7 linked regions of the Homo sapiens genome follow. The protein of the gene in region 6 interacts with the protein of the main gene of each other region in a pairwise test. Each region holds a gene or a part of one and is shown on either strand. Other genes may lie near its edges.

Region 1 (3,500 bases), on a different chromosome or scaffold from region 6:
TCTCTCACAGAGATATAAAAATAGTGCATAACAAATGTCAAAATGGATCAAGGTTTGGCAGGGTTAAGGTTAGAAAAGAATACTCCAAAAAATCTGGAGGATCATGGTTAAGTAACAAATAGGGAACACTGACAAATAAATTAGTAAAAAGCTCTTCTGAAAACAGCATCAACTTTAAACATTAAAAACTTGAACCACAACCACAATAAAACAGCAGAGTTAGACATGAACCACATATTTTTACAGTACAAAAAAGCACACCACAGACAACCAATATTAAGATCAACACTTTGCTCACATGAAGGATTGTCCCAAGGGTTTGCTATAAGGCAACACCCTTGTAATTTTCTCTCTTTAGAGTCAAAAATCTTAGTTCTGCATTTTTAAAAAACATTTACCATTGTTGGGTGCTTTGCTTAGATTGCAGAGTAACTCTTACATTAAAATATAGGGGCTAGTTGCATTAAAAATGCTCTAAAGAGAAAAAATATCACTAATGATATTCTAATAGTGTTCAGTACCAAGAGAAACTCATTAACTACTGCATGTTTCCATGCCACTTTCTCAAAACACCCCAAAAAACCTGCAAGCAAAGTCATTACCAAAATTCCTTCATGAAAATTTTCAAAAAAGCAATTCTCAACTATTAAGAACAATGTTCCATGCAACAGTGACCCCAGTTTAGACAGAAGACCCCAATATTTATAGGTTAAACACATAAGCAAGTTCAAGCCAGATTTCACCATTGTCTTATAAAGGTAAAATTTAATTTTATGCAACTAGCCATCTGTATATTTCCCCTTCTCCATTTTGACTTTACTTAGGGTTTACTAAAGTTTTGCATTCTTCTAAAAAATTCAGATTTTTAAATATGGGTTTCTTATGGGTCTTACATTTGGTGACTGGTTAGCAGTGTGCTGGCCATCTTTGGTTTATAAAGGATGTCTTAACCATGGACTATCAAAGGGGCTAAAACCAACTTTCTTTAGAATTCTTGTATTTTCTTTTACTCATTCTTTTATCTATACTATATCACTGCACATGAATTAGAACCGCACGTCACAAAATTGCACAGGGATTACAAATATTACATCCAGTCTGCATAAAATCGAATTCCACTACTGACCAGATCACAAAATGGCTGCACTCTCTAATCTAAAACTAATTTGCATATTGTACACATGTAAGACGATTTTTTAAACTTGAAGTCACAATAATGCATGCAAGTTTGCTTTTTTAAACAAATTTTATAATTTGTTCATGCTACCTAGATTCAAGAGAGCTTTTTTGAACATTTGCAATACCTCACCTCGTTAGTTAATAATTCTAGTGCATGCATATGGTGTATACAGGTAAGTAAACATGCATTTTTTTCACATTCTAAAACTATGGCAGTTTAGGCCATATTGTGCTGCCTGCATTTTATCTGCAATGCAGTGTGTCTCTAACGTTTTCAGTCCCGTATTAATAGGTGGCATTTACACATAACACCTATATAGCAGCAAAGCTAATACAGCTTGTGATTAAAAATGTTTAAAAATAGCTAATAAATCAGATTATCTTGAGGTATTATTTCTTGCAAGTCAAAATGGAGAGCAAAAAAATCAACCCTAATTTTTAGTTTATGTATACACTGAAAATAGCAACAATAAAAATAAGCATTTGTAGCAGACATATTCCATCTTCACTATTATTTTGCTACCTTTGGTAAATTACTGGGGCAGATCTTGAAGTTAAAAACCCATGTTTAGAAATAAGTGCACGCTTCCCCCACTATATAGCAGCAGACTGTGTTGCCCCTACGCAAAACATTCTCATATCTAATTTTAACTTTACATATAAAAATAACTTGGAGAAAATACAAAAAAACATTTTATTTGAACATGAAAATATCACAAAAATTAGTAAGCCTGAGATGTAGGGTTTTGGTGAAAAACAAGAGGCTTGTAGTGTTTTGGCTGCTGATAAAGATGCATGTATTGATAGCTGGGGTGAAAAGCAGAAGAATGCACTTATTTCTTCTGCATGTCAGTATCTTCAGACACAGTAAGCCACATGCACCCTTTCTTTCCTTGTTAAACAGAGGCCAGTTTGCTATTCTTAGTTCCAGCGGAAGTGGATCTGACGTGGGCGATCAGCACCTTCCTTTACCAATGGCTTATGGAACTCACGTCCAGCACGAGAGTGGATATTTGCCCAACAAAACTCACAGTAATACTGCAGGCAAGTGACATTGGCACAAAAAAAGGGAGCAAATTTTCCACCACAGCGTGCGCCCTGGCATTCATCACACATCTGGTCATCTAGCACATATGGCTTTACCTCCACCTTGAAAAAAAAGAAAGTTAAGTCTCATTAGGGTCTGCTTCAGAAATCAAATTCTGTAATAACTTAAAATGTTCTACAGCAGAAAAAAAGGACCAGCATTAAAAGCTGAGGAAATGGGCAGTTTCTCAAGGAAGGAGCTTTACAATGTAGTAGGTTAAAACACTTTAAAAATCTATAAAAATCTGATTTGCAAAACATTCCACTCTCACCTTTCTTGAATAACATCTTTGAAACACCTGTGTGCTGGTATTTTCAGAGTTAGGGGAGATTATGAGTGAAAAACAAAAGAGATATCAAGTAGTCATGGAAGACAGTTTCCACACCTTTTCCCCTCATTCCAGTATCACCTGTGAGATGGCAGAACCCGAACAGCCACTGATTAAGGCGGCGCCTCTCCACTGCAGGTGCGAGTCACACTCTGCTTGGAAATAACTGGCACAGACAAGCCAGAACTGTGGAGAATCTTACAAAGGGCATGCCTAGACTTCTGTAAATTTATAAGATATAAAGCACAAGTCCCGTTGTGAAGGTCTGACTTGGCAGAACACTTCAGACTGGAGTCAGCTCTGAATGATAAACTTCTCCACCTCAGTTTCCACATCTGTCAAGTGGGAATAACAGATCCTGTCAGAGTTGTGAGGCTTAAATTGTGAATGTAAAAGCATAAGACAGTGCTCGGCACATGGTAAAATATTCTATAAATTAGTATTAGCTACTATTAGCTGCAATAGCCTTGCTTTCCTGCTTGTGATAACTTTATGAATGGAAGGTTTTTACTGTTGTTTGGCTGAAAAGTGCCAGACAGCATAACAGCTCAGCCGTTCCTTAGGAGACAACAGAACACTGAGTGTTCTGAAGGACTGGATTGACATAAAGTAAAGGTTGCCTATAGTAAAAAGTAATGACCCAACAGTTTGTATTCTGAATGTATTCTACTGAAATACTTGCATGAGTGCAGAAAATGAATATAAGGATATTTTCCGCAATATTATTTGTAAGAACAACAACAAACTAGAAACAACCTAAAAGTTGATTACAAGAACTGTAGGATGTTCATTTGATAGACAGGTAATGGAATTACATTGTTGTTTATATTTCATTGATTAGGATTAGGATAAATATATTTTATGTATATTCGACACTTGGCTTTTCTGAATTGCTTGTTTGTATCT
Region 2 (3,500 bases), on a different chromosome or scaffold from region 6:
ACCATAAAACCAAAAGAACCAAGTCTAGGCTGGGCATGGTGGCTCACGCCTGTAATCTCAGCACTTTTGGAGGCTGAGGCAGGCAGGTCACCTGAGGTCAGGAGTTTAAGACCAGCCTGGCCAACGTGGTGAAACCTCGTCTCTGCTAAAAATACAAAAATTAGCTGGGTGTGGTGGTGGGCACCCGTAATCCCAGCTACTTGGGAGGCTGAGGCAGGAGAATCATTTGAACCCAGGAGGTGGAGGTTGCAGTGAGCTGAGATTGCGCCACTGTACTCCAGCCTGGGAGACAAGAGTGAAACTAGGTCTCAAAAAAAAAAAAAAAAAAAAAAGAACCAAGTCTAAATCTGTAATTGAACAGCAGTTTTTATCAGTGGATTTAACTTCCAAGTCTCCCTCTGTCACCCAGGCTGGAGTGCAGTGGCATAATCTCGGCTTATTGCAACCTCCGCCTCCCAGGTTCAACCGATTCTCCTGCCTCAGCCTCCTATTTCATGTACTGAATAGTTCTTTCTTTCCCCATTGATCTGACATGCTATCTCTTTCATACACTGAAGTTCCATACGTGTATGGTTATCTTTGGGCTCTGAATTTTATTTTATTTTTTTTTGAGATAGTGTTTTGCTCTTGTTGCCCAGACTAGAGTACAATGGCGAGGTCTCAGCTCACTACAACCTCCACCTCATGGGTTCAAGCGATTCTCCTGCCTCAGCCTCCCAAGTAGCTGGGACTACAGGCACTAGCCACCACGCCCAGCTAATTTTTGTATTTTTGGTAGAGATGGGGTTTCACCATGTTGGCCAGGCTGGTCTTGAACTCCTGACCTCAGGTGATCCACCCGCCTCAGCCTCCCAAAGTGCTGGGATTACAGGCATGAGCCACCACGCCCGGCCTGAATTTTATTCCACTGAACAATTCAGTTGTTCTCCTATGCTTTCTAAAGTGCTGTAAGCTTCATAATAAGTCCTCCTATTTGTAGGGGAAATCTTACCTTCCTGCTCTTCTTTTTCAGGAGTGACTTGGCTATTCTTGTCCTTTTAGTCTAGTATATAAATTTTAGAACTGGCTTATTAAGTTTCATGAAAAACTGTGTTCTGATTTTGATTGGGACTGTATTGAATATAAAGATCAATTTGGGAAGAAATGACAACTTTACAATATTGCCTTCCTATCCGTGAACCTGGTATCTCTCCAGCTATTTAAGTTTTCTTTAATCTTACCTTCTTGCTCTTCTTCTTCAGAAGTGACCTGGCTATTCTTGTCCTTTTAGTGTAATATATAAATTTTAGAACCAGCTTAATAAGTCTCATAAACAACTGTGTTGTGATTTTGATTGGAACTATATTGAAGATATGGACTCTTAATGTCTTACATTTTTCCCCATAGAACCTTGGGCATCTTTTGTTAAGATTTATTCTTAAGTCTCTCATATTCTGACACTGTTATAAACGTTCAAGGTTCTAGGTTTCTGTTGTTAGTAAATAGAAATGCAGTTCATTTTTATTGGAACTGTATTGAATACACAATCTCTTAATAATGTTTTATAGTTTTCCTCACAGAGCCCTGGGCATCTTTTGTTAAGATTTATTCTGAAGTCCTTCATATTCTCTGATACTATTACAAATGTTTTCTTCTTATTTAGTTACATTTTCTAGTTGTCTGTTGCTGGTAAATAGAAATGCAATGGATTTTTGTGTACTAACCTTATATCCAACCAGTTGTTAAACCCTCCTCTCATTTATAATTTATCTGGAGATTCTTTGGGATTTTCTATGTAAACAATCAAATCATTCACCATGTCATTCACAAAAAAATGACATTTTTTTTTTAAGACGGAGTTTCACTCTTGTCACCCAGGCTGGAGTGCAATGGCACGATCTTGGCTCACTGTAACCTCCTCCTGGATTCAGGTGATTCTCCTGCCTCAGCCTCCTGAGGAGCTGGGACTACAGGTGTCCGCCACCATGCCCAGCTAATTTTTGTATTTTTGGTAAAGACAGGGTTTCACCATGTTGGCCAGGCTGGTCTTGAACTCCTGACCTCAGGTGATCCACCCAACTATGCCTCCCAAAGTGCTGGGATTACAGGCGTGAGCCACCACGCCTGGCTAAAAAATGACATTGTTATATCGCCCTTTCCAATCCTTATTATTATTATTACTGTTTTTTCAGGCTGAGTTTTGCTCTCCAGGCTGGCATGCAGTGGTGTGATCTTGGCTCATTGCAACCTCCGCCTCCTGGGTTCATGCGATTCTCCTGCTTCAGCCTCCTGAGTAGCTGGGATTACAGGTGTGTACCACCACGTCTGGCTAATTTTTGTGTTTTTAGTAGAGAAGGGTTTCGCCATGTTGCCCAGGCTAGTCTTGAACTCCTGGACTCAAGTGATCTGCCTGCCTTGGCCTCCCAAAGTGCTGGGATTACAGGCATGAGCCACCGTGCCCAGCCTTCCTTTCCAATCCTTGTGTCTCTAATTTCTTTTTCTTGCCTTACTGTGTGGGTCCTCCAATGCAATGCTTCAAATATTGGTCCTCAGTATTACAAGATTCTGGAGGTGCTTCAGGGTTTCTGCAAATATTTGCCTTCAGTGTCATTTAAAAATAGTTATCTACTTAAAAAAAAAGTTTATCAAGTTTTAAAGAATCCAAAATTCAATTTGATCTAAGTACTGCTGCCCTATTTGCTCATTCTCCTGGTTCTTCCTGGAACTTTTCTCTTTCCTAATTTTATATTCATTTCCCATGCTGAATCCAGTGTCTTTTTAAAATTTATTTATTTATTCATTTATTTATTAGCCAGGATATATTCTCAGCTGACCAATGTCTTTTATCATCTTTTTCTGTTATTCAGTCTCAGAAATCTGGGTCCATAAAAAACTGAAGACAAACTTGTAACCAGGAAACACTGTCTTGTGAAAATATTTTCCTAACTGCCACATTCCTCATGGGGCAGTGATAAATAGCTGAATTTAACTATATCCTCCAGTGGATAAAATATCTGTAAGCAAATACCAACTAGGAAAGGACATTAGGAAGATTGATTCTTTGAAGTCAGAGATATAGCTGAGTTTGAGGCTGAGTTGCATATATACTTGGAATTGCAGAAAACCATGTTATACTAACAACACTAATATCAAACCAATATTTATACTCTACTTTTCATAAGAAACAGTCACTTAATGAAAATCAATTACCAAAATATAATTCTGGTAGTAAAAAAGAAGAAAAAGATCTAATCATGGAAACTGAGCTTAATGCCAACAACATACCTGCTACCACTCATTACATAACCTGAGCATTCAAATGATGCAATTTCTTCACTTGTCAAGCCAATTTCACCTCTTCGTGGGATACGTTTTCCAGCTTTTACATATTCAGCCATAGCTGCACCTTCACCAGGTAACAGAGCATGGCCATAGCTACAAAGTAATTCAGAATTCAGAAAAGGTCCATTAAATCATCTTAATATTAAAAGCTTATAATCTAAAGAGAGCACCAAAAATCC
Region 3 (3,500 bases), on a different chromosome or scaffold from region 6:
AGGAGAAACAGGACTAAAGCATTTGATGCATTACGCCTCTGATGGCTAATTACCAAGTCATGTCCATTTCGTCCTCCTCATTCCATAGGAATCTATGATTTTCTCGTATAACATCCAAGTCTGTCTTGTCATTTTCCCTGGAAAACAGAACTTTTTCAATTTAATACAAAAACAAAAGTAGTCAAATTTAGGTTAAATAGCTCTGTGAGTTTTGGAAAATTTTATTAAAAATATAATACATGAAGATAGTTTTTTGGTGAGTATAAATTTGTTCACATATTTATAAAAATATTTCAGTATTTTCAAAAGGCACTTATAAAAATACTACTACAGAAGCAAGTTAAATGGATAAGGAATCTGTCTGTAGCATTGGTTTCAATTATACAAATGGTGCTAAGTTACCAAAGCTAGAATGAGAAACCTGACTAAACACTAAATGAATAAAGTGAATGAAAATAAGTTTCATTCTAACCAACCACTCTGCTGAGATTTAATTTTAAAAAATATGAAAAGTTTTCCGTATCTCATTTTACTAGTTTCCTAGGTAGAAGACTGAGTAAAGGAGGAAGAAAGCCAAAGGGATTGACCTTTCAAAATAAAATGCTAACAGTCTGGGGGTAAAAAAAAAAAGGAAAAAAAAAAGTGATTGTTGGGAGATATAGGATAAATTGATAGGTGAGATAAATTGGGGGTAAATGAGGTGGTACTAAATTTTCTCAGAGTCCTACCAACTCAGAAAATTGTTAGAGGGAAAAAAAAAACCTCACATAAAACTAAGAAGTTCTAAGACACACACACACTATAGCAGCACAATTCGCAATTGCAAAGCTATGGAACTGACCAAAGTGCCCATCAACCAATGAGTGGATAAAGAAAATGTGGTGTGTGTGTATATATATATATATATATATATATACACCATATATATATATATACACCATATATATATATATATACACACATACATACACCATATATATATACACACCATATATATATACACACCATATATATACACACCATATATATATACACACCATATATATACACACCATATATATATACCATATATATATACACCATATATATATATATATACCATATATATATACACACACCATTTATATATACCATGGAATACTACTCAGCCATAGAAAGGAATGAAATGATGTCTTTTTGCAGCAACTTGGATGGAGCTGGAGGCCATTATTCTAAGTGAAGTAACTCAGGAATGGAAAATCAAATATCATATGTTCTCATTTATATGTGGGAGCTAAGCTATGAGGATGCAAAGGCAAAAGACTGATATAATGGACTTTAGGGACTCAATGTGGGGGAAGGCCAGAAGGGAGGTGAGGGATAAAAGACTACATTTTAGGTATAGCATACAGTGCTTGGGTGATGGGTGCACTAAAATCTCAGAAATCACCACTAAAGAACTTATCCAGGCAACCAAAAACCACCTGTACCTCAAAAACTATTGAAATAAAAATAAAAATTTAAAAAAACAAAAACAAAACAAAACAAAAAACAAGTTCTGATAGAAGAGCCTTAAACATGGGAAGGACTTTGATGTGCAAGAAATGCTAGACTGAGAGTTCTTGTTTACCTATCTTTTAAAAAGCAATCCCAAACATCAAGGTATAAAAATTTCCTTATTTCAAAGATCTTTGCCAAGAAGACACATGAGTATTCTTCAGATATTCTTTTATCACCAGGGTTGTGCCCGGCTCAGCAGGTAAAGAGTCTACCTGAGGCCTGTCCAAAAAAATGGGATTCATGAAGAGCTACTCAGGAGCTGTGGATGGTATCTCTACCTTATAATATAAAAAAGAAACTGGGGCCAGGTGCAGTGGCTCACGCCTGTAATCCCAGCAGTTTGGGAGGCCAAGACAGGTGGATCACAAGGTCACGAGTTCAAGACCAGCCTGGCCAAGATGGTGAAACCCCGTCTCTACTAAAAATACAAAAATTAGCCAGGCATGGTGGCAGGAGCCTGTAATCCCAGCTACTCGGGAGCCTGAGGTAGGAGAATCGCTTGAACCACAGCGGCACAGGTTGCAGTGAGCCGAGATCAAGCCACTGTTCTCCAGCCTGGGCGACAGAGTGAGACTCCATCTTAAAAAAAAAAAAAAAAAAAAAAAAAAAAAAAGGCACACCGGAATAGAAAGCAGGGAAGAATGACAGAATCAGAAGGCACAGTAGCTGTGGGTCTTTAAAGTTTCCCATAACCCACATTCCCTTCTATGTAAACTTCCTGATACTTACCCCAAACGCTTGAAGTCTTCTTTTTTGCCACCATAGTATAAAATATAGTCATTTACGAACTTTGTATGTCTTTGATACTGAAATGCAAAAAATTAAGGATTTTATTCTCTTAGGAGCTGTTTGGTGTCATAATATATTGCTGATTGGTGGTAAAAAAAAGCACAATATGAGTCTATTTAGCTTTTTAAAAATATTCACACACTATACATGCTTACACATTCAGAAAATCTAGAAGGGTATATATTAAATTGTTGAAAGTGAAGATTGTAAAGTACAGGCTTTCTTTTGACTATTTTTCAAGCATATACTACTCTTGTGATAAAAATATACCTCCATCTGGGGAGAAATAGAGCTTCTTATTCTATTGCTGAACTGCATATAGCCTCCTACCACCACTCATTCTAATAATCACAATATGAAAAATTTAAAAATTATAGTTTCTAAAAGTAGAGAATTTATCTTTCATTATCATAAAATATAATTTATCTATTTTAGTAATGATAAAGCCTCTAAATAGAAGATGCAACTTTTATAATTATATTTATAATTTATAATTAAATCCCAACATTAAACTTTCAAAAAAGCAAATATAAAAAATCAATTTTTATAGTCTTTTAAATTCAAAGAATAAAATGCCATGTTTTTTCAAAGCATTGTAACAAAATATATGAGCATTTTACTTTTTGTTTTAAAAAGCTCAACAGCACTCTCTCTAGAGCCAAACATGCACATAATAGCTAACCTCACCTTCTACAATATTCTCTGTGACTATTAAACATGTATAGTGATTTAACTGATCATAATGTGTACTAACAGACAATTTAATCAGATTATGGTATTTCCATATTGTAACAAACCAGTTAATATTTCAGGAAAAAAAAAAAAGAGAGAGACAGAAAAACCAAATACCTGGAGATCTGGATTCTAGCTCTTGATCTACCACTAACTGGTCACATGACCATGGCAAGTCATGTAACCTATTAGAGCTGGGGTCAGCAAACATTTTCTGCAAACGGCCAGATGGTAAATATTTCAGGCTTTGCAAGCCATATGGTCTCTGTTGCAAATGCTCAGTTCTGCCATTTTAGCATGAAAGCAGCCAAAGACAACATATAAATGAAGCATGGCTGTATTCCAATATAATTTTATGTACAAGAACAGGTGGTGGGTGTAACTTTTGCTTCCGGGAAGATGGAGTAGGCAAAGATGTACTTCTCCCTATTCCTCATACT
Region 4 (3,500 bases), on a different chromosome or scaffold from region 6:
GCAAGACTCCATCTCAAAAAAAAATCAAAAACAAAATCCTTTGCTAGATTCTGCTAAGATTTCCTTCAGTATTTCCGTGTCTTTTTCAGAAGTGACACTAGATTGTATTTTCTGAGACAGGGTCTCGCTTTGTTACCCAGGCTGGAGTGCAGTGGTGTAAATGCAGCTCACTGCAGCCTCAATCTCATGGGCTCAAGTGATCCTCCCACCTCAGCCCCCAAGTAGCTGGGACGACAGGTGAGCACCATTTTTCTATTTTTAGTAGAGACGGGGTTTCACCATGTTGCCCAGGCTAATCTCAAACTCCTGGGCTCAAGCGATCTGCCCATCTTGGCCTCCCAAAGTGCTGGGATTACAAGCGTAAGCCACCATGCCTAGCCAATTATATTTTCAGTCTGTGCATTGTCCTTCCTGCCTGATGTAATAGTTACCCTAGTCTTGGGGAATGATCTGGGTACCTTTCCTCTATTTCTTTTCTCTGGGAACAGGAAACAGATCTTCTGCTGTTCAGGAATGGGATGGTTGTAGTTTTACTCTAGGATCACCTGGCTCGTGCTTGTAAATGGATGAAAACCTGGGCCTAGGAGCAGGCCTGGGACGAGGGAACAAGAACTGAGTCTGAGGGTGGCAGACTGCTTTCTGACTACACTCGGTGCCCAGCCTCTGGGGGCTGTTTCCTGGGGGCAGGCTGAGCTGAGGGAGCCCCGTACCAGGCTGGGTGGTGGGCGGGATGGCAGGGGCAGGTGCTGGGGCCGGGGGTGGAGCAGGCGGTGGAGGCGTGGCCTTGACTTCAGCCTCCATCTGCGGCATCTGGAGCTGCTGCTGCTGCTGTTGCTGCTGCTGCTGCTGCTGGGCCAGGCTGGTGACAAACTCCTCGTGCTGCGTCTTGAGGGTCTGGATCTGCTGCTGGAAGGCCAGCTGCACCGGCTGGACCACTGAGGAGTACTCGTTGATGAGGGTGGCCTGAGAGAGAGAAGAGCACCCGCTGCTCAGTATGCGGCCTTGGGGCTCGCTGCCTGGCGCCAGAGGACAAACGCCTGGAAAGCAGCAGAGCCTGGGGGACCTGGGGCAGGTGGACAGGGAACCGTCACGTGAAACAGCCAACACAGTCTGGGCAATCAGTGTGCGCTGGGATCTGGCCAGAGATTTGGGGATGAGGATGTTCGCTGCAGCGTGTTTTACGACTCCCTGATAACAGAACGAGCAACGACAGCCGTGTCCTGGCCGCTTCGTGGCTGCTCAGCGAACACTGCCCACCAACATTCTGGGACACGCTCATGGGCTCTGCCTCCCACTCGCCATGTGGCTCTCAGCAAGAGGGGCTGCCACAGCCTAAGCCACGTCTGGGCTTCCTCATGCTTCCACCACACCGGAACATGCCTGACCACCAGAGCAAATGGGCCATGTGCAATGACTCCGAAAGGCCGCCTGGTTCTAGTGTTCCAGGAAAGTCAGGGAGACACACCTAAGGCCTGGGAAATGTCACCTGGGACTCTCTGGTCAACACACACTGGCTACTCCTAGCACAGGCAGGGGACATGGGCTCTCTGGCTGCTGGGGTGGCAGCTGCTGTCCCCACACTCCCAAACCCTCCTGGGGAACCCGCCCCAGCTCTAGGGTGAGGTGTGGGTGGGCAGGGACACTCACCTGGTACTGACCAAGCCCCAGGGCTGGGCTCTGTAGCTGCTGAATGATGGAGTCATCGAAGTAGCCGTTTTTCTCCCAGAGCTGCAGGAGCTGGCGGTGGGAGGAGAGAGAGGCCGGGTCAGTGGGGAGGGGAAAGGCCTGTGTGTCCCGGTCTTGCCCAACCCCCGGCCCGGGGCCCACGCACCCGGGCGATCTTCTGCTGCTTGTCTTCCTCCACGGCCAAGAAGCTGGTGCAGTAGATGGGCACCACGACCTTCTGCAGGGCGGCCAGCAGCTCCCGGGCCTGCTTGCGCTGGCTGTGAGGGAGAGACTTTCCGCGCGTCAGGGCCCTGGGGCGGGACCCGGCCACGCGCCCGTTACCATCGCGGCTCCAGCCTCAGCGCCCTCTGCCTTCTCGGGAATCGGGTCCCCAACCCGGTCAGGGCGATGGCTGGGCTCCCACGAGACCTGTGCTGGTGCCTGGGCTCGAGGAAGGGACAGATGGAAAAACAGCAAGCAGGGGAGGGAGAGAACGTGGCCTGGGGCCGTTCTGAGCAAGGCCTTTTGGTCCAGTCCCCTTGATAGGAAATAACCTTCCCTCCTTCCCTCTTGGGTGGCGCTGCGGGTGAAGGGATATGGGCCGGCGGGAGCCCCTGCCTGTGTATGATGGGCGGGATGGGACTGCTGCGGAGTGGGGGTCTTGTCCTTGTCACTCACTATGCACAAGGAAACCTCGGCCCAGGCCAGGCCTCTTGGGAGAAGGAGGGAGGGTGCCCAGTCCCTCAGGAACCTAGAACACTTTAGAAGAGTGACCGGATGCCCAGCGGGGGGAGGCGCCGGGCCCATGTCCTCTCAGGGCTGCTGTGCAGTGCTGCACAGGACACTGTGCATACCTGGCCTGGGAGGCCCCTGCCGCTGCGCAGGGAGATGGCTGCCCCTGGGGAGGGACGCAAGACAGGAGGGGAGCAGCTGGAAGCCCCTCAGCCCTCAGCTTGCCGCAGGGGGCTCAGGGGAGCAAGGGCCTGGGCTGGGCGAGCAGCACTTGGCTTCGGACAGAGTAGAGCTAGAGAGGCGCGTGGCTGGAGAATGCGGGAAACTGTGCATCCGTGCAAGGCACCCGACTCAGAGGCAGGGAGAAATGGAGGCATGAGGAGGAGCAGAAGGGCAGAGCTGGTGCCGAGCCGCAACTCACTTCCCAGCAGGAGAGAAACAGGGACTGAGGTGGGGAGGCAAGAGGGACTCAGGCAGTGCTGCATGTGATAGATGGGGCGAGATGGGTGCTGGCAGCCTGGCCCACTGTAGAGGCACACGAGGCGCCAGGCCAGGACTGCTGCCCGCTAGGCTCAGTAGCAATGCTTGTCTCCTCCCGCACGTGCGGGCCTTTGGCCTGGGGTTCTATTGTTTTTTTTTTCTTTTTTGCTAATTTTTGTGAGAAGGGCCCCAGTGACCCTGTAGAAGGAAATACCCACCCAACCTTGGGGAGGGTGGAGACAGCAACAGTGGGAAGGGTGAGGGCTGGGTGGGGACAGAGGGTCGGCAGATGTGGCTCTGTTGAAGCCTGAGAGATGGGTCAGGGCTGGAGAAGGGGATCCCAAAGGAGGGTCCTGATGGCTGAGCAAAGTCAGGTGACCGCGTGTGTGTGCGTGCAAATCAGTGACGAGGGCAGGAGACAGACACAGAGGCCAAGGAGGCCGTGGCTGAGAAGGCAACAAGGAGACGCCAAGAAGCTGCCCCATGAGAGGAAGGAGTGCAGGGGACAGTGGCCCCCAGGAGACAGCAATGTGACAGGTGAGGCCGGGGTCTAGGGGAGAGGACAGGGCATGCAGCGAAGGTGCACAGGACACCTAGACCTCGCAGTCCTGGAGACAGAAGCC
Region 5 (3,500 bases), on a different chromosome or scaffold from region 6:
GAGATCACGCCATTGCACTCCAGTCTGGGTGACAGAGCGAGACTTGGTCTCAAAATAAATAAATAAATAAATAAATAAATGGTATTACATGTACAGCAGAAAATTGATCACCACATGGCTATCATGATGACCCTTTCCAAATGTTTCCCCAAAATTAATTTCAAATGATCTGTCCATGTGTCATTTCTCAGACTATATGAAGTGTTTTGGTCATCTCCACAAATTTTACATTTATGAACAAATCAGAGGAATTACGTGCTTATACCACAATAAAGGGCCAGGAAGAATATTTATATTACTGCTAGTCATTACTTAGTCTTGAAAAACTTCCTCAAACTAAATATTAAAGTGGCAAACAACCTTTTTGTACTCTTTTGTGCCTATATATGACTTGCCTTTAAAAGAATACAAAGTAGAGCCGGGTGCAGTGGCTCACGCCTGTAAAACCAGCACTTTGGGAGGCCGAGGCGGGCGGATTGCCTGAGCTCAGGAGTTCACGACCAGCCTGGGCAACACGGTGAAACCCCGTCCCTACTAAAATACAAAAAAAAAAAAATTAAAATTAAAAAGTAGAGGTCTAAGGTGTCCAAAATCAGATACTTGATGGTACTTGCAGATAATGACTACTTTTAAATGTTCCAGAACCCTATGTCAAATTCATTGGTTATACTATCTTACCAACAAATCCTTTGAGCTTTCTTTCCTCCCAAATTATAAGTATCTAAAATCCTTAATTCCCAAGGTCATCCCAAAACATCACATCTCTTTTCATCTACTCCAACCCGTAAATGTTCTATTAACTGTCTACCTCTTAATCTATCCATGGTGCAAATTTCCCAATGCTAAACTCTCTTTCATTTCCTTATCCCTGAAAATTTCAGTACCTCTAATAGAACACTGCTAAATAAACTGCATTCCACTTACTCATTAATATCAAGAACCTGCAGCTCTGTCATGTAATGAAACCAAACAAATAGAGCAAACATTTCAAACAGACTTTTGGTTACCATTCTTTAATAAGGACTAATAAGATGTAAATGTGGTGATTAATTTAGCATGTTTCCTCATCTGTAAAACTGGTGGTTTAAAATATTCTTTAAATTATCTCCCAACTCCAAAAGTCTACAATTCTGTCTTAAAGTCTTAATTTATTCAATCTACTATCAATCCTACCCAGAGCATTTTCCTAAATTCCAAAAACTCAGAAATCACAGATTTCTAAGTCCTAGGTAAGGTTGTCATACGCCAAAGGAAAACCCAGTTAAGTGTGAAATTCCTACTAAATAACTTCCATAAATAAACAAACAAAACCTACCTTGCAAGGAATTCGAGTAACTAAAATGAACACTAGGCAAACAACTATAAAGAAACAAAAAGCTTACAACATATATTATGCAGGGTAGAAAGAGCAGGGGACTGGGAATCAAGGAGCTGCTCCTAGGGGCAGTTCTGCCAAAAGCTATACTTTAAGCAAATGGTAAAATCTGAATATGATGGAATTGGACTAGATAATCTCAAGAATCCGTGCCAAATCAAAATGATTTTAAAGTCTCCTTTGACTTAAAAATCCAAAATCGATACAAAATTCCACAAAAGGGAAGTCAGAGGCGTTACTGCACACAATTGACAACAACGGCTTAAACCTCTGCTAAATGAAATAATGGAATTTAGGTTATGCATTATTCTGGGGAAGTAGATAGCAAAGGATTTAGGGGCTGTATAGCCTTTTAGTTGTCTGATATTTGAGTAGACCTTGCCTTTCATTTGTTTCTCTTTAATTCTTCATCATAAACTATAAAAACTAAGTGACCAACATAAAGTCACAATTTTCTCAAATGAGAAAAACGTATTTATGAGGGCCCAGAAAACACTAAAGATTCTCTCCCTGGATTTGAATAGGACCTTTCCTAAAACATAACATTGATATACAATTATGATTATGGTGCTGTGAATTCTCAACCAGATTACTCACTTTTTAGATTATTCTCAGCAAAATTTTAATCCAAGTTGGCTTCCTCCTGCTACCCAGAGTATTTCTTTGTCACCACCTTCTACCACTAGTAAGCATTTTTTTAATATTAGCCTAAATAAAACACAATCAGAAAAATAAACCTATAAAAACATGATAAAATGCATTCCAAATAAAATGTTTGGAACATTTAGCATGTTGGGATAATATGATTGGAATGGAAGAGAGGTCTTTATAGTGAATGTTCTATTTTGATAGATAAACTATATCTAAACATTGTACCAGAGAGCTATGGACACTTAAGGATAATCTACTGTAAAGGTCTTGAGACCACACACTCTAATCAGAAAGAACTTCATAATGTATCTTGCTCAAGTTAAGTCAATTTTAAAACCATATATTTAAGCCATTATATGCATCAGTTTATTGTTCATTCATAAAACTAATTTTATAAGCACATAAATTGTAAATTTCTGTTACAGTTAATGTTTCATTACCACTGTGAGAGGAGATCCTTAAAAAACAATAGTAAGTCCTATTGGTATAAGTCCTTTTTGATTATTCTTCTCAAACCAGTAAAGTTTTGACATTAGGCACGATTATTTTATCACTTTGTATGTTTTAGAAAAAAAAAGTGAATATATCCACTCCACTCTGTTCTTTAGGAAAAAAGTAGCTTTTCCAAGTACAAGAGATCAACTAACTTGATCATCTTTTTTAGGCAATGATTGAACTTTTCATTTCACAGAGCATAATCCATCATTTTTTAAATTTGGTTCCTTAGATTATAAAGCTAAAGATGCTAACTCTTATGTAAAATTTTTTTACATAAAAGTTGTTACTGTTTCATTTTTTTATTCTAAGGAGTATCAAACTAACTACATTTATAATCTTTGTGAAAGTTTTCAAATCTCATTCATTTTTATGATTCCAATTCCACTTGAGATTCTAGGAGAAAACCTGTGAATGCTCACTACATACTGAAGATTAGAAAAAAATCTAGTAATTTCACTAAACTGCAATTAGGATTTGGACCCAATGCAAATGTGCACAACATAAAATTTCCTATACATTCTATAGATGTAGGAAGTTTATTAATTATATTATTTTGTAAATATATATTATGTATTTAATTTGATTTAATCACATTACATAGGTTGAATTTGGGGGTTGCTTTTAAAGTGTTGAGAGTTTAGTGTTTATTTTTGTAATCCAACAACTTTATCCAAAAATGCAGAAAATTTTTCTGGCTGGCCAGGAGGATAACATTTCAGTGTTGATAAGTCCATTGACTGTAACAGCCCAGGAAGCGTGCTAAAACAAAAGAAGAAAAATATTAGGTAACATGGGAGAAAATTCCATACTTCATCTGCTGCCCACTGATGACTGAATCTAACTTCCAAGAATATAGTGGTACTTCTAAAAACTGCACATGTGAATTTTTATATATTTTAATAAGTATACATACTAGGATTATTAAAGCAATACAAAGAGTACTATAAAATGTCAATATAAATTCAGCAGATACCTT
Region 6 (2,558 bases):
TCCTTTAACCAGTTGAATTTGAAAAATGAAGGCAACATTTGGCAAAATCTTGGACTATCTTGAAGTTAATCTCATTGAAAATAAAGGATTTTTCAATTATCCTGTAATACTATTCCACCTTACTATACCTGAGTGTGTATATCTCTCTCTGATATACTTGGATTGGTAATTGAGAAAGTCTTATTAAAGCGTGGATGGCAAGCACTTCTGTTTTTGTCTTTTCAGTTTCGCCGTGAGGAAGATGCGGAAAAGGCTGTGATTGACTTGAATAACCGTTGGTTTAATGGACAGCCGATCCACGCCGAGCTGTCACCCGTGACGGACTTCAGAGAAGCCTGCTGCCGTCAGTATGAGATGGGGTGAGTGAGGAGTGGCCAGTGACGTGACTGAGCACAGTTCGGGGCCGTGTGCACACGAGGTAGTAAATGTCTCCTTCCAACCCACCCACAGAGAATGCACACGAGGCGGCTTCTGCAACTTCATGCATTTGAAGCCCATTTCCAGAGAGCTGCGGCGGGAGCTGTATGGCCGCCGTCGCAAGAAGTGAGTATTCCTGTGCCCGTTGTTAAGCTCAGTGGCTTCTTTCTCCCCTCACAACCCTCCCCCTTCCAAAAAAAAAATTTTGGCATAGGTGTCGTTTCTGTTTTTTAAAAGGCAGTGCTTAGAACATAGTACATATTTTTAAATATCCAAATGTCCTCTTTGGAGAAGAATATTCACCTGCACACAGGTAACTTCATTATCCAACTTCTCAAGTAGAGATCAGATCTTAGTAATCAAGCAAGAGGGCGGTTAGCTGGGCAGCCGCGGACATGAGGCTCGTGGTGAAAGTGGGCATGCAGTTTATTCTCCCAGATATTACGAAGAAGAAGAATAGATGTTGTAACCTCCTTTAGATCAGGGATGGCTTCCCTGGGACACATTGGAAGAAGAATTGTCTTGGGTCACAAATAAAATACACTAATGATAGCTGATAACTTTTTTTTTAATTGCAAAAAAAATCTCATAATGTTTTAAGCAAGTTGATGAATTTGTGTTGGGCTGCAGGTTGGACAAGCTTTTGCTTTACATATTTCACATGTCCACTGGGGTTTCTTTTGGTTTTGCTTGTTGGTTTTAGGGCATTTCATTATGTCTTGGGATCGCTGGCATCCTCCCTTCGGGACACTGGCAGAATCAGGCCCAGCGGTCACATCTCTCTGATCCTACATTTAAATGTACGACAGGTCACAGAGCAGAGAAAATCAAGACGTCAGAATCGAACCGATTGAGTTCTGAGTCTGGAGAGGTTCTCATCCCTCTTCTGTTAAACATGGACTAGTAAATAGATGGGTGGCGATTGTTTTATTGTCAGCATTCAAGAAGCATAAGAGAAAAACAGGCCTGCTCTCCCCAGCCCAAAAACCTGATGGACACAGTAGCTATGAGCGCCTGAAGCGTGGGGTCAGTGAGGGTTGAAGATGGTATGTGTCCAGCTCATTTTGATTATGATTTCCTGTGACCATTTGAGTTGGTTCTAGAAGAAGACAGAAGATGCAAGGTATTACACCTGTTCACTTCTAAGTTGCACATTTTTTTCTCCTGAAACTTTTCACACCTGAAATCAGGGTGTGTCTCAGTCACGGCGTGCAGTCTCTTCAGCAGTGTTTTTCCTTATCAGTGCCGTTGGCTTGAGGAGCTGCGCGTGTTGAGAGAGTGGGTGTGGTTCTGTGCTGCGTGCCGTGGTTTGGATGGCACGGTTTTCTTTATTTTCCTTGGTTGCAGGCATAGATCAAGATCCCGATCCCGGGAGCGTCGTTCTCGGTCTAGAGACCGTGGTCGTGGCGGTGGCGGTGGCGGTGGTGGAGGTGGCGGCGGACGGGAGCGTGACAGGAGGCGGTCGAGAGATCGTGAAAGATCTGGGCGATTCTGAGCCATGCCATTTTTACCTTATGTCTGCTAGAAAGTGTTGTAGTTGATTGACCAAACCAGTTCATAAGGGGAATTTTTTTTAAAAAACAACAAAAAAAAAAACATACAAAGATGGGTTTCTGAATAAAATTTGTAGTGATAACAGTATTCTTGGTGTAACTTATTTCTTGTGGAAGTTCTTTAAATTTCTTTTTCTTTATAAATCTGCTAGTCATCTTGGAGGTAAAGATTAATATCCATCCACCACTTTGAGTATAAATGAAATAATATTTTTTATCTTAGGGCATGAAATAAAACACATACCAGGTGAGATCTACATGCTAAATAATCCGGAATTTCTCGAGGCTGTCATGGAAAGCCTTTTGGGGTTTCTTTTCTAACTGGTTAGTGAAGAAGTGCTTAGCTATAATCAGTAGACACGCTGTAGACTGCACTGATGTTGGGAAGAAGGCTGATCTGTGGTGAGACACAGTGGGTGGGCCCGACCCATGTTACCTTCTCGTTCCTGCGAGTTTGTGTCAAGAACCCCATGTGTTCGTGGGAGGGAGCGTGGATGCTCACACGGCACACTGAGGGCCAGTAGTCCGTGTCCGTGTTTCCTTATGCCAATGGCTGTGGGAGACACAGAAGCCTGCGGTGCAGATCCG
Region 7 (3,500 bases), on a different chromosome or scaffold from region 6:
GTGCTCCACATGGCTGCCTGCCCCAGTACCAAAGCCGCCTTCTCTTCTGCAGCTGAGGCCTGCTTTTTTCACTGACTCAAGACACTGGACAATCAGTCCTAACTCAGTCATCCCTCAGTCCAGGAAGTACTTACATTTCCTTCTTTTTTGAAAAATCAAGTTCACAACTATGCTAGGAAGTACAGAAAAACAGGGAAGATGTGATTACCTGCTGGCTGGAAGAGACAGGCATAAGATGCAAGGGAGCCTGGTATGGGGAGAATTATGCTACGAAAAGGGGTAAGCCAAAGCCCAGCACCATTTTGCAACCCTAAATATGGATCTAGGCAATGGCCATCAACAGACGCTAAAACCTCAAGATGGAGGAGCAGTGGAAACCTATCAGGGAAGAGGCAGGCTGCCACCACTGGGGCCCCTCATCCATCCTCCCATCAGCAAAGGTGGGGCCACCAGACCTCACATGCCTCCTGAAGGCATCTAAGAGGAGGTTCACAGTGCCACATGCAGGCATCTCTGCCACACGCAGCTCAGCCGGGATCTAATTGAGCGGTTGGACTCATCGCCAGCTTACAGCAAGTGCACGAAACACAGGCACAGGTTAAACACCGCTGTGAGCAAGCAATGAGGCAAATACATCATATGGACTATTCGACAGGACAAATGACCTGGCTGCTCCAATAAATCAATGTCATGAAAAAAAGCGTGGGGTGGAGCCTGTTCTAGAATGAAACAGTTAACACACATAAGCAGTTGCAATGCCTGGATCCTAATTCAAGCAAATCGATCATAAGAAGTTATCTTTGAGATAAATGGAGAAATCCAAATGCGGACTGGAGACTTAGGTGACATTAAGTATTCATTTTTTTATGAGTGATAACGGCACAGAGGTTATATTTAAAATTTTAAGTCCTTTTAGTCAGAGACACATACTCAAGTATTTATGGATGAATAATGTATGAGATAAGCTTTAAAATATTCCAGAAAAAAAAAATGGATGTGTGTGGAGTGGGGTAGGAATAGTGAAATTGAACAAACGTTGACAATTATAGAGGCAAGGCAACGAATTCATGGTGGCCTGTTGTACTGTTTTTCCCACTTTCATGAATATTTGGACTTTTCAATAATGAGTTTTTTGGTTTTGTTTTTAAAGGCTCAGCCTACCAAACAACTGGAGTGGGTGGTGGGGAATCAGACAGACCCAGCCTGCTGGATCACAGCCTTTATGTTTGCAGAGAGAAGTAAGTGGGTTGGATGACCGCAAGTCTTCAATACCAAGCGGAGGGAACACCGACCCCACAGGCAAACAGCACCCCTGCGAAGAGCACAGAATCCTCACCTGCCGTGACTTGCCCGCCTGTTTCACGCTATAGAACATGGGGCCCAGCTCCGCCAGCCACTCCCCGTCCACAGCGGTCACACACTGCATATACTCCTGCGGGCAGAAGGGCAGGGAGGCGAGGGTCACAGGAGGGCCAATGTCCCTCCCAGAGTGGTTCCACAATTAGGAGCCACATGGGAAGGGCCCAATCCCTGGCCCTGCAAGGCTGAAAAAAGGAAAGGAAAAACCCCAGATACTCCCATCCAAACTCCTCCACACTTGAGAAAATGCCCCCAGTATCTAAAAGAAAAGGCCCAACCCCTCCGAAAATCCTTCTAATGACACCAAGAGGGGTTGCTCATCCCAAGCAGCAAGTGGGGAACAATCGTGCCCATGCAGCTGAGGTCAATGCAGTCTAGAGGTCAACCCTGTGCAGAGCTTCCCCAAGTCCCCAAATGAAAACCAACCTCACATGCCCCGCAAAACAATGCATGTGGCCTCAAGGCTCCCAGGCTAAAAGCTCATGCCAGAACGCAGTGAAGGGTTTCAAAGCCTGGCCAGACAGGGGGCCTGCATTATGCAAGTGCCTTGGAAAAGACTCACCTTGGTGGTCATGACCAACTCGTGATACACTATGTAATCTGGGGTGTAGCCCATTCCAAAAAGGGAGCTGGTGGGGTGCAAGTGGCAGGGCATCCCTGTGCGGATGTTCACGTACTCCCCGATTCCCTAGGGAGGAGACACAACAGGCAGCCACATCAGGAAAACAACACCCATTTGGGCAGCGACCCCATCCCTTAACACTCTTGACACAGCCTTTGGCGGAAGCCCAGATCTGCAGAACCACACCAGGACAAAGGAAGAACTTTGCCCTTATACAGGTATCAGGCTGGGAGGGGCTCACTGGGCTCCTGGGTTCACCTTGAGCTTGGCTGCTTGGTGGAAATAGGCAGCACAGATGCACTTCCTGACGATGTCCCAGTCAGTGCCACACGAGGCCAGGCTCATCCGCTGCTGCACCATGATGTCCTTGAGTTGAGCTCGCACCTCCCGGACCTAGGGCAGGAGACGGAGGCACCAGGAGGGAGCCCTCCTTTCCTCTCGACCCTCCCCTCATCCCAACATCCTGCTCATCCACCACTCTACCTTCCGCATGGCCTTAGCATGGATGAAATGATCGTTACACCAGATGGTGGAGTAATTATTGTTCTTCCACTGCAGGTAAACATTCAGGTAGGTCAAATGATCGCTCTCAGGAACAGCGAACTTCTCCCGGATTTGATCACTCTCCTCCTCTCGACCCTAGGAAGGGAAAAAGAACCTTCACTCTAAGTACAGGGGGGTCCAGGCCCACTGAGCACATCCCAGAGGTTCTAACACTACCACCTACCCACACATAGAACTTCAAACATGTCAATAGGTTGCCCTGACAATTTGAGAAAAATTAAAATAATTTTTAAAAAGGTCTACTCTAAAACATGAGGGCTCAAGAGCAACCATACTAGAAGATAAAAAATGCTCTTGCAAATTTCCAAAGCATTCCCTGAGAACCACTGGCCCAGCCCTTCCTTTCCCCTACCCCAACCTGCTTAACCGAGAACAGCAAAATCATTCTTCAGAAACTCTGATTCTGCCCTCTGTTCCATTTCAGTAATACAGAGAGAAGCCATTCCCCTCCCCAACACTTCCTCGAGCCCTCCGGGGAGAGGGGAGCCAGCCGCTGCCCCACCTTGGGCCTGTAGAAGATGGCTGGGACCGAGAGCATGGAAACGATGAGCAGGATCTCGGAGCTGCAGCCCATGTCACAGGACACGATGAGCATCTTGGACAGGGCAGGGTCCAGCGGGAACTCCACCATCAGCCGCCCGGTAGAGGTCAGACCACCTAGGAGAGATGAGCAAACCCGGATATTTGACGGGACAGTAGAGGAAAGAAGGAAGTCAAGCGCCAGCACCCATGAGGCTCCCGGGGCCGCCTCACCTGTGTTGTCCAGGGCCCCGAGGATCCAGAGCTGATACATAGAGTTGAGCATGTTGTCCTCCGGGGGCGGGTCCATGAAGTGGAACTGCAGCAGGTCCTGCACCCCGAGGGACTTGAGCAGCAGCACCACGTTGGCCAGGTTAGTCCTCTGGATCTCGGGCACTGTGGTGGTCAGGAGCTCATTCTTGTAGGCGCTCTGGGT

What was found.
Region 1: the proteins of U2AF1 (region 6) and CPEB2 interact in a two-hybrid assay, tested with the Homo sapiens proteins (one large-scale study listed by BioGRID).
Region 2: the proteins of U2AF1 (region 6) and NKAP interact in a two-hybrid assay, tested with the Homo sapiens proteins (one large-scale study listed by BioGRID).
Region 3: the proteins of U2AF1 (region 6) and FRA10AC1 interact in a two-hybrid assay, tested with the Homo sapiens proteins (one large-scale study listed by BioGRID).
Region 4: the proteins of U2AF1 (region 6) and CHERP interact in a two-hybrid assay, tested with the Homo sapiens proteins (one large-scale study listed by BioGRID).
Region 5: the proteins of U2AF1 (region 6) and ALG13 interact in a two-hybrid assay, tested with the Homo sapiens proteins (one large-scale study listed by BioGRID).
Region 7: the proteins of U2AF1 (region 6) and DHX38 interact in a two-hybrid assay, tested with the Homo sapiens proteins (one large-scale study listed by BioGRID).

What each region holds. Positions count from the first base shown.
Region 1 is NC_000004.12:15,064,981-15,068,480, reverse strand, and holds part of CPEB2 (cytoplasmic polyadenylation element-binding protein 2), read right to left. Parts: intron 2,329-3,500; coding exon 2,101-2,328; 3' UTR 1-2,100. UniProt on the Homo sapiens protein: May play a role in translational regulation of stored mRNAs in transcriptionally inactive haploid spermatids. Binds to poly(U) RNA oligomers. Required for cell cycle progression, specifically for the transition from metaphase to anaphase.
Region 2 is NC_000023.11:119,926,752-119,930,251, forward strand, and holds part of NKAP (NF-kappa-B-activating protein), read right to left. Parts: intron 3,415-3,500; coding exon 3,265-3,414; intron 1-3,264. UniProt on the Homo sapiens protein: Acts as a transcriptional repressor. Plays a role as a transcriptional corepressor of the Notch-mediated signaling required for T-cell development. Also involved in the TNF and IL-1 induced NF-kappa-B activation.
Region 3 is NC_000010.11:93,692,593-93,696,092, forward strand, and holds part of FRA10AC1 (protein FRA10AC1), read right to left. Parts: intron 2,346-3,500; coding exon 2,269-2,345; intron 138-2,268; coding exon 54-137; intron 1-53. UniProt on the Homo sapiens protein: May be involved in pre-mRNA splicing.
Region 4 is NC_000019.10:16,528,938-16,532,437, forward strand, and holds part of CHERP (calcium homeostasis endoplasmic reticulum protein), read right to left. Parts: intron 1,944-3,500; coding exon 1,832-1,943; intron 1,738-1,831; coding exon 1,648-1,737; intron 964-1,647; coding exon 711-963; intron 1-710. UniProt on the Homo sapiens protein: Involved in calcium homeostasis, growth and proliferation.
Region 5 is NC_000023.11:111,687,670-111,691,169, reverse strand, and holds part of ALG13 (UDP-N-acetylglucosamine transferase subunit ALG13), read right to left. Parts: intron 3,284-3,500; coding exon of another isoform or gene 3,169-3,283; exon of another isoform or gene 998-3,168; intron 1-997. UniProt on the Homo sapiens protein: Catalytic subunit of the UDP-N-acetylglucosamine transferase complex that operates in the biosynthetic pathway of dolichol-linked oligosaccharides, the glycan precursors employed in protein asparagine (N)-glycosylation.
Region 6 is NC_000021.9:43,092,456-43,095,013, reverse strand, and holds the end of U2AF1 (splicing factor U2AF 35 kDa subunit), read left to right. Parts: intron 1-225; coding exon 226-359; intron 360-450; coding exon 451-543; intron 544-1,764; coding exon 1,765-1,912; 3' UTR 1,913-2,058; downstream 2,059-2,558. UniProt on the Homo sapiens protein: Plays a critical role in both constitutive and enhancer-dependent splicing by mediating protein-protein interactions and protein-RNA interactions required for accurate 3'-splice site selection. Recruits U2 snRNP to the branch point.
Region 7 is NC_000016.10:72,107,347-72,110,846, reverse strand, and holds part of DHX38 (pre-mRNA-splicing factor ATP-dependent RNA helicase PRP16), read right to left. Parts: coding exon 3,299-3,500; intron 3,203-3,298; coding exon 3,048-3,202; intron 2,621-3,047; coding exon 2,465-2,620; intron 2,375-2,464; coding exon 2,240-2,374; intron 2,048-2,239; coding exon 1,922-2,047; intron 1,433-1,921; coding exon 1,337-1,432; intron 1-1,336. UniProt on the Homo sapiens protein: Probable ATP-binding RNA helicase. Involved in pre-mRNA splicing as component of the spliceosome.